3 separate regions of the Homo sapiens genome follow, and regions 2 and 3 are each linked to region 1. Evidence: fine-mapped expression QTL. Tissue or cell type: whole blood. Region 1 holds a variant in brackets; each other region holds the start of a gene. All regions are shown on one strand. Distances are between the middles of the regions.

Region 1 (2,653 bases):
CCCGACCCTTCAAGTTGTGCTCAGTGCACTGAGGGAGGCAGGGGCTCCCCAACTCCCTCCCCAACTTATCCACAAGGTTTTGGTTTGTTTACAAAGGCATACTTAGATTTGGCTTTTATTTATTTATTTTTATTTTTATTTACTTTTTTGAGATGGAGTCTCGCTCTGTCGCCCAGGCTGTAGTGCAGTGGTGGGATCTCGGCTCGCTGCAAGCTCCACCCTCCCCCGGTTTCCGCCATTCTCCTGCCTCAGCCTCCTGAGTAGCTGGGACTACAGGCGCCCGCCACCACGCCCGGCTCATTTTTTTGTATTTTTTTTTTTTTTTAGTAGAGACAGGGTTTCACCGTGTTAGCCAGGATGGTCTCAAACTCCTGACCTGTGATCTGCCCGCCTCGGCCTCGCAAAGTGCTGGGATTACAGGCGTGAGCCACCTCACCCGGCTATTTTTTTATTTTTATTTTTCTTATTTGTATACATTTGTGGGGTGTGTGTGCAACTTTGGTCAGTCAGGTCAGGGCTTTTAGGGGATCCATCACCCAACCAACGTTGTTCCCATTTATTCACAGGCTTTGAAACTGAGCCCCGGGCATGAATTTAGAAAGTAGCAGGACAGTTTGATTTCAGGGCTGGGAAAGAAAAGGACGTTTGGCTTCCATCTCCCTGATTTTCTAGGGCCACCCCTAAATCTAGCTGCCTAGGCTCTGCGTGGGAGGCCTGTGGGGGTGCTTTCTACCCCAAATCAGGTCCTGTCACTTGGCAGTGGGATGTGTGCTCAGGGTTTGGGGTGTCCAGAGGAAGATGAGCTTGCTGAGACAGGAGCTGTGGGGAGCCAGGTGTGTAGAGCTCAGTCTCCTATCGGGACTGGGGGTGCTGGGGGAGGGCTCTGGGCAGGTGCTGCAAGGAGATATTGACAAGTGGACTTTCCCTAGCTTGCCCCCAAATGGAGACCCTCCGGCCATCTGTGAGATATCGCCCTTGGTGTCTTACTCTGGAGAGGTGAGAGCTGCCCATCCCTATCTGGGGCTTTTCTGGTGTCAGGTTTGGAATACCATCTGGGGAGAGGTGGCTGCTCGGGTGGAGACGGCACAGCTCTACCTCGGTTAACCAATGGGGTCGGTGGTTTAAATTTGCAGAAGACTTTCCAAGATATGGGTTGGGGTGGGGTGAGGCATCCAGAGGCCTTTGCAGGTCCTGGGAGGGCATGGGGATGAGACAGCCCAGGTCTGAGCCCAGTGTGGGGCCAGTCAGGCCTTGGTGGGGGCCTTGCGGAGGGAGGACACCGGCCTCTGCTACCTCCCTGACCTCGGCTGCCCTTGCCCCTTTCTCTGGTCAGGTCAGACCTGTGCGTGACAGGAGGGTCCCCTGC[T/G]GGCCTAGGGTCTTGAGTGTGGTCTTGGGTGGCCTTGCAGTGTGTGTCTGCTCCTGGCCCTGGAAGCCTTTCTGTCCCCACCCCTCCCTGACTCCAGGCAGACCTGGGATCGCACCTGGGGACTGTGGCTCTTGGTGTGGCCAGAGGGGCTGTGACCCGCCAAAAGGTGGGTACTTGGCCATTGTCCCCTGCTCGTCTCCAGGGTTTAGAAGTGTACCTGCAAGGCCGGGAGTTCCAGTCCCCGCTCATCCTGGATGAAGACCAGGCCAGGGAGCCGCAGCTGCAGGAGTCCTGACCCGCCCAGACTGTCCCCAGACTCCCCCGAGACCTGCCAGCCCCGGCATCCTGGAAGTCCCGACTCCCCCCAGACCTGCCAGCCCCGGCGTCCTGGAGCTGGGGGCTACAGCCCAGCCTGAGCTCTGGGTGGGAAAGCAGCCTGCCCCATGCTTCCAGCCTGCAGAACACAGAATGAAACATGCTGGTAGACTCCACGAGGGCAGGGCCTCTCCTGTCGCCTCTGGACACAAGTGGCGACAGCCTGCTGGGGGCTCTGTGGCTCCATTCCTGGCTGTGGGGTCTAGTCAAGAGGCAGAGGGACTTGGGACCTGGGAGAATGGGGCTGAGAGGAGGCTTCGGGTTGGGGCCCAAGGGAGGTGTGGTGTCATCTGGGGAGAACAGGAGGGCATGTCCCTTTGGGAGCCCGCCTTGTGGATCCACCACACCCCACCGAGCACTAGAAGCTGCATAAGCTACACAGGATGTGCTTCTGCAGCCTACAGATGCAGAACCAGAATGAGGGGGACAATTCCACCCACTCGAGGGCTGCCCCCTCTTCCTTAGCAGACGAACCAGTAATGGGGGCAAGGCTGGGGCATCCCAGCCCACACACCCTGGATGCCCAGCAAGGCCACAGAAAGAGCCTGATGTCCATGATCCAGGTGGCTCTGAGAAGCTTGGCCTGGACACCTGAGCCTGCGGCCGGTACTCCTGCCTTCTCCCCATCTATCCCCAAGGCCTCTGCCTCTCAGCCTCTTCCATGGTCGGTTTAGGCTGCTGAGTTTTCTGTGCTTCCCCAAGAACCAGTGGGATCAATGCCGGCGGCCTCTGTGATGGTTGCTGACTAATCCGGGATTTCATGAGTCAGAGGCACCACCCCTCACCCCAGCTGCCTGCTGCTTCTGACGGATCTTGGTGCTCAGGCTGCCTGGCTCTCCGAGTGAGGACGCAGCCTCCATATTTGGTGCACTCAGGCATGGCTGGGACAAGCCAGCTGCCCCAGGGTTCTTC
Region 2 (2,790 bases), 55 kb before region 1:
CTGCCTCCCCCATTGCTATAGCAACGGCCTCGCACGAGCTACTGGGAGGAGGAGGAGAGTCCTGGCTGGCAGGCGGCGGGCGCCACAGCAGCATCTGGTTACAGGCGGCAGCACAGGTCTAGCACGCCCTGGGTGCCCCACACAGGTGCCTCCAGGTGGCCCAACCTCCGTCCCTCGAGACCAGCCCAGTGCCTTCACATCGCCTGGAGGCCTAGATGCCTTCTCTGGGCATGACCCCTCCCTGTAGCTCCCGCCTACTGTGTCGGGGGGAGAACAGGTGAGACCCGAGGGTGGCGCTGCCATCTGCCATCCCAGTGACTTCATGACAGTGACCCTGTCCCTGCACCAAGAGCAGCCTGTAGCCCAAGGGTAGACCCAAGTCCAGCTAACTAAGAGGAGATAGGCCACACTCACAGACAGGGAAACTGAGGCAAAGAGCTTGGAGGAGCCTGCTAGCAGCACAGAGGTCCTTGGCACCCACCCTCCAGACCCTGAGCTCTGCCCAGGGTGGAGCTCTGCCCAGGGTGCACCCCTGCCCCAGCAGGGCGCATGGCACACAGGGCAAACCTCTGTCATCCAAGCTTGGCCCCAAGAGTCCAGCTCTGATGTCCAAGATCCTTCCCAGGAAAGTGGGGACCCAGCAGGAGTGTGCCCAGTGTCCAGCCAGCCCCAGCCCCACATCACAAGCCTGGCAAGGACTCAGCCTCCCTGGGGGAAACAGTTCCCCACCTGCTCCAGCCATGGGCTAAGGACCTCCACTGTGGCCCAGTGGGCCTCTGGGAGCCCTGTAGGGTGGGGACCCAAAAAGGTCCTGGGGGGCAGCCCAAACCAGCAGCTGGGAGTCACTCTTGCGGTCAGGACAGTGCACACCTCCCACCTGCTTGCCAGCTGCCCTCATAGGCCACACTCCCTTCCCTGAGCATTGTCCCCACTGGAACAGGGGCCACCATTCCAGCCTCTGCTCCCAAGCCCAGTGGGGACCTTCCTGACAACCACCCCCGGGGACTAATACTAATGCATGCCACATGCCACATCCCTGTTCCCTTGGCCCTGCTCTGCTGTCCCCAGTGACTCAATGCCAGGGGCTGCAGGCCTGATCCATGGGACCCCACTCAGCCAGCTCCAGGTGCCTGGCCAGGGCATGTACCTAACCCAGGCTCCCCGCCAAGGCCAGGTGCCCAGGGGAATTCTGCCAGCCATGGTGATGATGGCCACCCCAGCTGACTGCAGCCTGGGTTTCCTGCAGTGCATGTTGAAAGATAAACAGGCACGGACTGGTGCAGCCCAAGGGGTCCCGCCCGGGCCCTGGCTGGGCAAGAGGATGTCTGCCTTAGGCCCCCACCTGCTCTGAGCCCTGGCCTGGACAATCCCAAGGGCCTTCAGAAACCTAAGCTGGTCCAGGCCTGTGGCCTGGGAGGTGTCCCTTCCCTTCCCAGGCTGGAGCCAAGCTGGCCAGCTGGGGGTATGGCAGGACACCCATATCCCCAAGCCCCTCGCTCCACGAAGGACTTCTGTCCCTGACAGCCATGTGTCCTGCACCCTCAGGTCCACTGGCTGCCCAGGCAGTGCTGGGAAAGCCGGGGTTCACAGCTCCAAACAGTAGACCCAGCCCCCAGAGCAGGTGGGGGGACCAGGAGGCAACAGAGTGGATCAGGCTCGGGGAGAACTGACCCCAAAGGACAAATGGGTGCAGAGATTCAGGCTGGCCAAGGCTGGCACAAGGACATTCCCAGTGGCGAGAGCATGAGCAAGGGTCACGGATGTGCCAGGAGGGGAGGCGGAGAGATGCCTGGGACCAACCTCTATGGCAGGCCGCGGCCCAAGGGCAGGGGAGGGGTGGACGGAGGGAAGGGACAGGGTCTCCTCCGGGACCCCAGGGAGGCTGGGCCCAAGGACCATGGAGCCTCGCAGCTGAATGGAGCCCCCCAGGCCTGCCTTCTGTCCTGGGAACCAGGGCCTCCCTCGAGCCAGAGTCCTGAGCGCCGCTTGCCCCCCGCCCACAGCGGCCCCAGCGAGCGCGCTGCAGAGGGCGCGGGTGCCGTGACTCAGCCGAGCACCGCGATGTCAGCGGACGCGGGACCGGACTGGACACGACCGAGCCACCTCCCCGGAGGCCGCAGCGCCGGCAGGCGAGGGCAGGGCCCGGCGGGGAGGGGGCTCGGGCCCGCGCCGCCCCCAGCGCCCGCCGGGGTCTGCGCGCGCCCGGCCGTCCGCACGTGCGCGCGGGGAGCGCGCCTCTGGCCGCGGTGCGCGCGGCCTCGGGCTGAGGGCGGGCGCGTGGGGTGGGCTCACCGGGCTCCGGCGTTTGAGCGTCACGTTCTTCCAGAGCAGCAGCTGCAGCTGGTGCAGGAAGCCCATGGCGGGGCCACGCTCCGCCGCCTCAGCGCCGCGGCCCGCTCCTCTGCGCGCCCCGCCGGGCCCCGCAGCCCGCCGCGCCGCTGGGCATCGCCCGCGCGGGGGCGGGGCGCTCGGGCGTCCGGGACCCGATCCGCGCTGGCTCCGCCCCGGCGGCCGCGGCGACAGCGACTCTGCCCGCGCCCCGCCCGCCCCCGCTTAAAGGCGCCGCGCTCCGTCCGCGCCCGCCAGGAGGCGCCCGCCGCCCGCGCCGCGCCCGGGACCGACCCGGGCCCGAGACCCTGCGCGCGCCGCCGCCGGGAAGCCTCCGGGCCGCCCCTCGCCGGGCGTCACGCGACGCGCCCACATCGAATCCGAGACCCCGGCTTAGCCTTCGTAGGCCGGGGGACCCTCGGGCGCTGCGCTCTTCTCCCAGAGGCATCCGGCTGCGCCCAC
Region 3 (2,790 bases), 50 kb before region 1:
CCCACTCTCACCTCCTCTGCATGCTCCAGTGCCCACCTGCACCCCCCACCCCTGCTTCCTGACCTCTGTGCCCAGCCTCCCGTTAGCCCGCTGCTTGCCGGTAAGGGCCGGATGCCTGGTGGTTTGATTTCGACACCCAGCCCTTCCACCCACACCCACCTCCCCCGGCCAGCGGATCTCAGGCCTGAAACCAACCCTCAAGGTCCTCATAGACTTGGCTGCGGGGTAGGTGTGGGTAGCGGTCACAGATGGCACAGAAACGTTCCCGCCAGTCGGTGAACAGTCGCACGCGGAGCCTGTCACGCCAGGCAAAGAAGCGTTGGTATCGGCTCTCATTCATGCCAGTGAGGAAAGCCGCCAGCTCTCGGGCTGAGCCAAAGTCATCCACATGCACGAAGGCGTCAGCCGGCACGAAGGCCTCATAGGTGGCCCGTGGGGGCCCCAGCACCACTGGCACAGTGCCAGCCACCAGTGCGTTGCGCCAGAATTTCTCCGTAATGTAGTCGCGGTGCTGAGAGTTCTCAAAGGACAGGTAGAAGCGGTACTGGGCCACGGTGGGCACCAGGCAGCTGGCGCACAGTGGCCGTCCATTGGCACGGCCAAAGACATCCACCCGCAGATGAGGCGCCAGCTGCCGGTACAGCCTGGCACGCAGCTGCCGCTCCTGGAAGTTGCTGACCACCCAGGCGGCCACCCTGCTCTTGGCTGGCAGCGGTGGCGAGGGCCCCCAGTGGGGCTCCAGGCGGCCATAGGGCACAAAGATGTCCGAGTCGCGCCGGTAGCTCAGCACCCAGTTGAAGATGCCTCGGAGGTGGCTGAGGCCGTGGGTGTGGCTAGGAGACTCCATGGAGGCCCACACCCAGGGCTGCCCTCGCGGCCGCTGGGCCAGGGGCAGGTGGGACCGCCGGGTCTGCAGCTCGCGGTGGTGGAAGACCACGGCGTCGGCGCTGGCCAGCAGGCTTCGGTTGGCACTCAGGTGGCAGCGGGCGATGCCGTAGCGGGTGCAGGTGTCGCTGGGCAGCTCTGGGGGCTGGTCAGTGAAGGGCCAGTGCCAGACAAGGATGGTGATCGTGGGCTGGGGTGCCGGGGTACCCCGAGGGGCTGACCCCAGCAGCCACAGGAGCCAGAGGGCAGCGAGCAGAGCCACCCCGGCCAGGACCCCCAAGCCTCGCAGCCTCCGGGTGGGGCCGTGCCCTGCAGCAGCACGAGGGAGGGGAGGCTCTGTCACTTGGGCTCAGGGACATCCACACGCCCCACTCAGCGCCAACCCCGTCCTCCCCTCCCATGGGCTCAGGGACACCCACATGCCCCACTCAGCGCCACCCCCGTCCTCCCCTCCCATGGGCTCAGGGACACCGACATGCCCCACTCAGCGCCACCCCCGTCCTCCCCTCCCAGGTTGCCTAGCTGTCCCCAGCTTGGGCCTCCCCGAGGGCCAGACACTCACCAGCATTATTCATCCACAGTCTCCCAGGATCAGTCAGCCAAGAGACCCGAGATTCTCAAATCACGGCAGCCGCCAGAGGTGCCCCTGAAATCACAGCTACGCCCTAGCTCAGCCCCGCCTGGAACTGTGCTCCTTTTATCTCTGCCCAAGGTGAGGGAACTCAGGGGACCTTCCTGCTCCTGCCCCGCCCCTGCCCCCACAACCTTTGGCATCAACCACTGTCCCCACCCCCATCTCGGGGACTTGCTAGTCCTGGGGCTGCTGGGAGGGGTACAGCCACAAGAGGGATGCCAAGCCAGGGCAATATGACGCCCCCACAGCCCACCCCACTGGTCTCCAGAGAGGCCCAGAGATGTCCAGCTGGGCAGGCAGAGGACAGAGAGGCTCGGGCAGGCTTGGCCCAGGGCAGAGAAGGCCCAGGTGCAGGCACCCTGAGCACAGATGGCCCCCCAGCCCCCACCCAGCTACCCAGGCCTGGGCGCTGCAGACAGCGAGTGCACTTCCCCAGAGGGCCAGGTGGCTCCTCCCACGGCAGTATCACCCACTTCCCCCAGCTCACCACCAGCTGGGCCCTGGTCTCCCAGGAGAATCTTACACATTGAAGATGTACTGTGCTCAGCTCTTTGCCGGAAGCTAAAGCTCCCAATTGGGCCATCCCACCCCACTCTGCCACCTCTGCCATCTAGGAACCCAGATGCCCGGAGAGGAGGTCTGTCCTGGGGCCCTTAGTGTCTTCCCACAGGAGCCCAGCGCGTGCCTGCAAGGGCCTGGTCCCGGAATGAACTGTGGATGGAGGCTGCTTTGTCCTTTTCCCCGTCCAGATCCATGCCCATAGACACCGCTGACTATAGGCTGGGCCCAGGGTCCCTTCCTCCAGCCTGCAGCAGAGGGGCTTTCCAGGCTGGAAAGGGAAGGAGTCCTTTTGTCCCTGACGCAAGCGGGTTGGGGGCCAGCACCCGCTCCAGGAAGAGGAAGGGATCCAGCCTGAAGTCCAGACTCCCCGCTCCCTCTAAGCCAGGGCCTGGAGCCTGGAGGCCAGGTTCCTTCTTCTACACCAGCCCACGTTGGGTGCCAGCCAGGCTGGGATGGCCCTGCGGGGTCACCCTGAGCCCCAGCCAACCAACACCCCACTCTCAGCCACAGTGGGAGGCCCCATCAGCCTCTTCACCCAACCACGTTGCCACTCTGCTGCACGGGACCTTGTGTGGTCCCAGGCGTGGCCAGACCCAGACGTCCTGGAGATCTCAATGCAGGTCAGGCTTGGTTTGTTTGTTTGTTTGTTTGTTTGTTTTTTGAGAGGGAGTCTTGCACTATCGCCCAGGCTGTAATCCCAGCATTTTGGG

What was found. PIP is the estimated chance that this variant, and not a neighbour inherited with it, causes the effect.
Region 2: it holds the start of LINC02908, and the variant in region 1 is fine-mapped to the expression of LINC02908 in whole blood (TOPMed, PIP above 0.99).
Region 3: it holds the start of FUT7, and the variant in region 1 is fine-mapped to the expression of FUT7 in whole blood (TOPMed, PIP above 0.99).

What each region holds. Positions count from the first base shown.
Region 1 is chr9:137,081,069-137,083,721 of GRCh38, forward strand. It overlaps UAP1L1 (UDP-N-acetylglucosamine pyrophosphorylase 1 like 1), which reads left to right. Exons shown (of 9, transcript NM_207309.3): 8 at 930-996; 9 at 1,569-2,653. The coding sequence ends at 1,661. Among named protein-coding and RNA genes, the nearest start is that of MAN1B1-DT, 4.4 kb to the right of the region's middle. RefSeq lists an enhancer at 2,344-2,653 and a silencer at 2,451-2,653. The variant T/G (reference allele first, on the strand shown) is at 1,367.
Region 2 is chr9:137,025,783-137,028,572 of GRCh38, forward strand. It overlaps LINC02908 (long intergenic non-protein coding RNA 2908), which reads left to right and starts at 1,682. Exons shown (of 3, transcript NR_171031.1): 1 at 1,682-2,129. It overlaps ABCA2 (ATP binding cassette subfamily A member 2), which reads right to left and starts at 2,455. Exons shown (of 49, transcript NM_001606.5): 1 at 2,293-2,455. The coding sequence starts at 2,358. RefSeq lists a silencer at 2,533-2,712 and an enhancer at 2,596-2,790.
Region 3 is chr9:137,030,532-137,033,321 of GRCh38, forward strand. FUT7 (fucosyltransferase 7) reads right to left here and starts at 1,557. Exons shown (of 2, transcript NM_004479.4): 1 at 1,448-1,557; 2 at 1-1,194. The coding sequence starts at 1,460. The coding sequence ends at 179. LINC02908 (long intergenic non-protein coding RNA 2908) reads left to right here. Exons shown (of 3, transcript NR_171031.1): 2 at 1,467-2,700. RefSeq lists an enhancer at 1,592-1,701.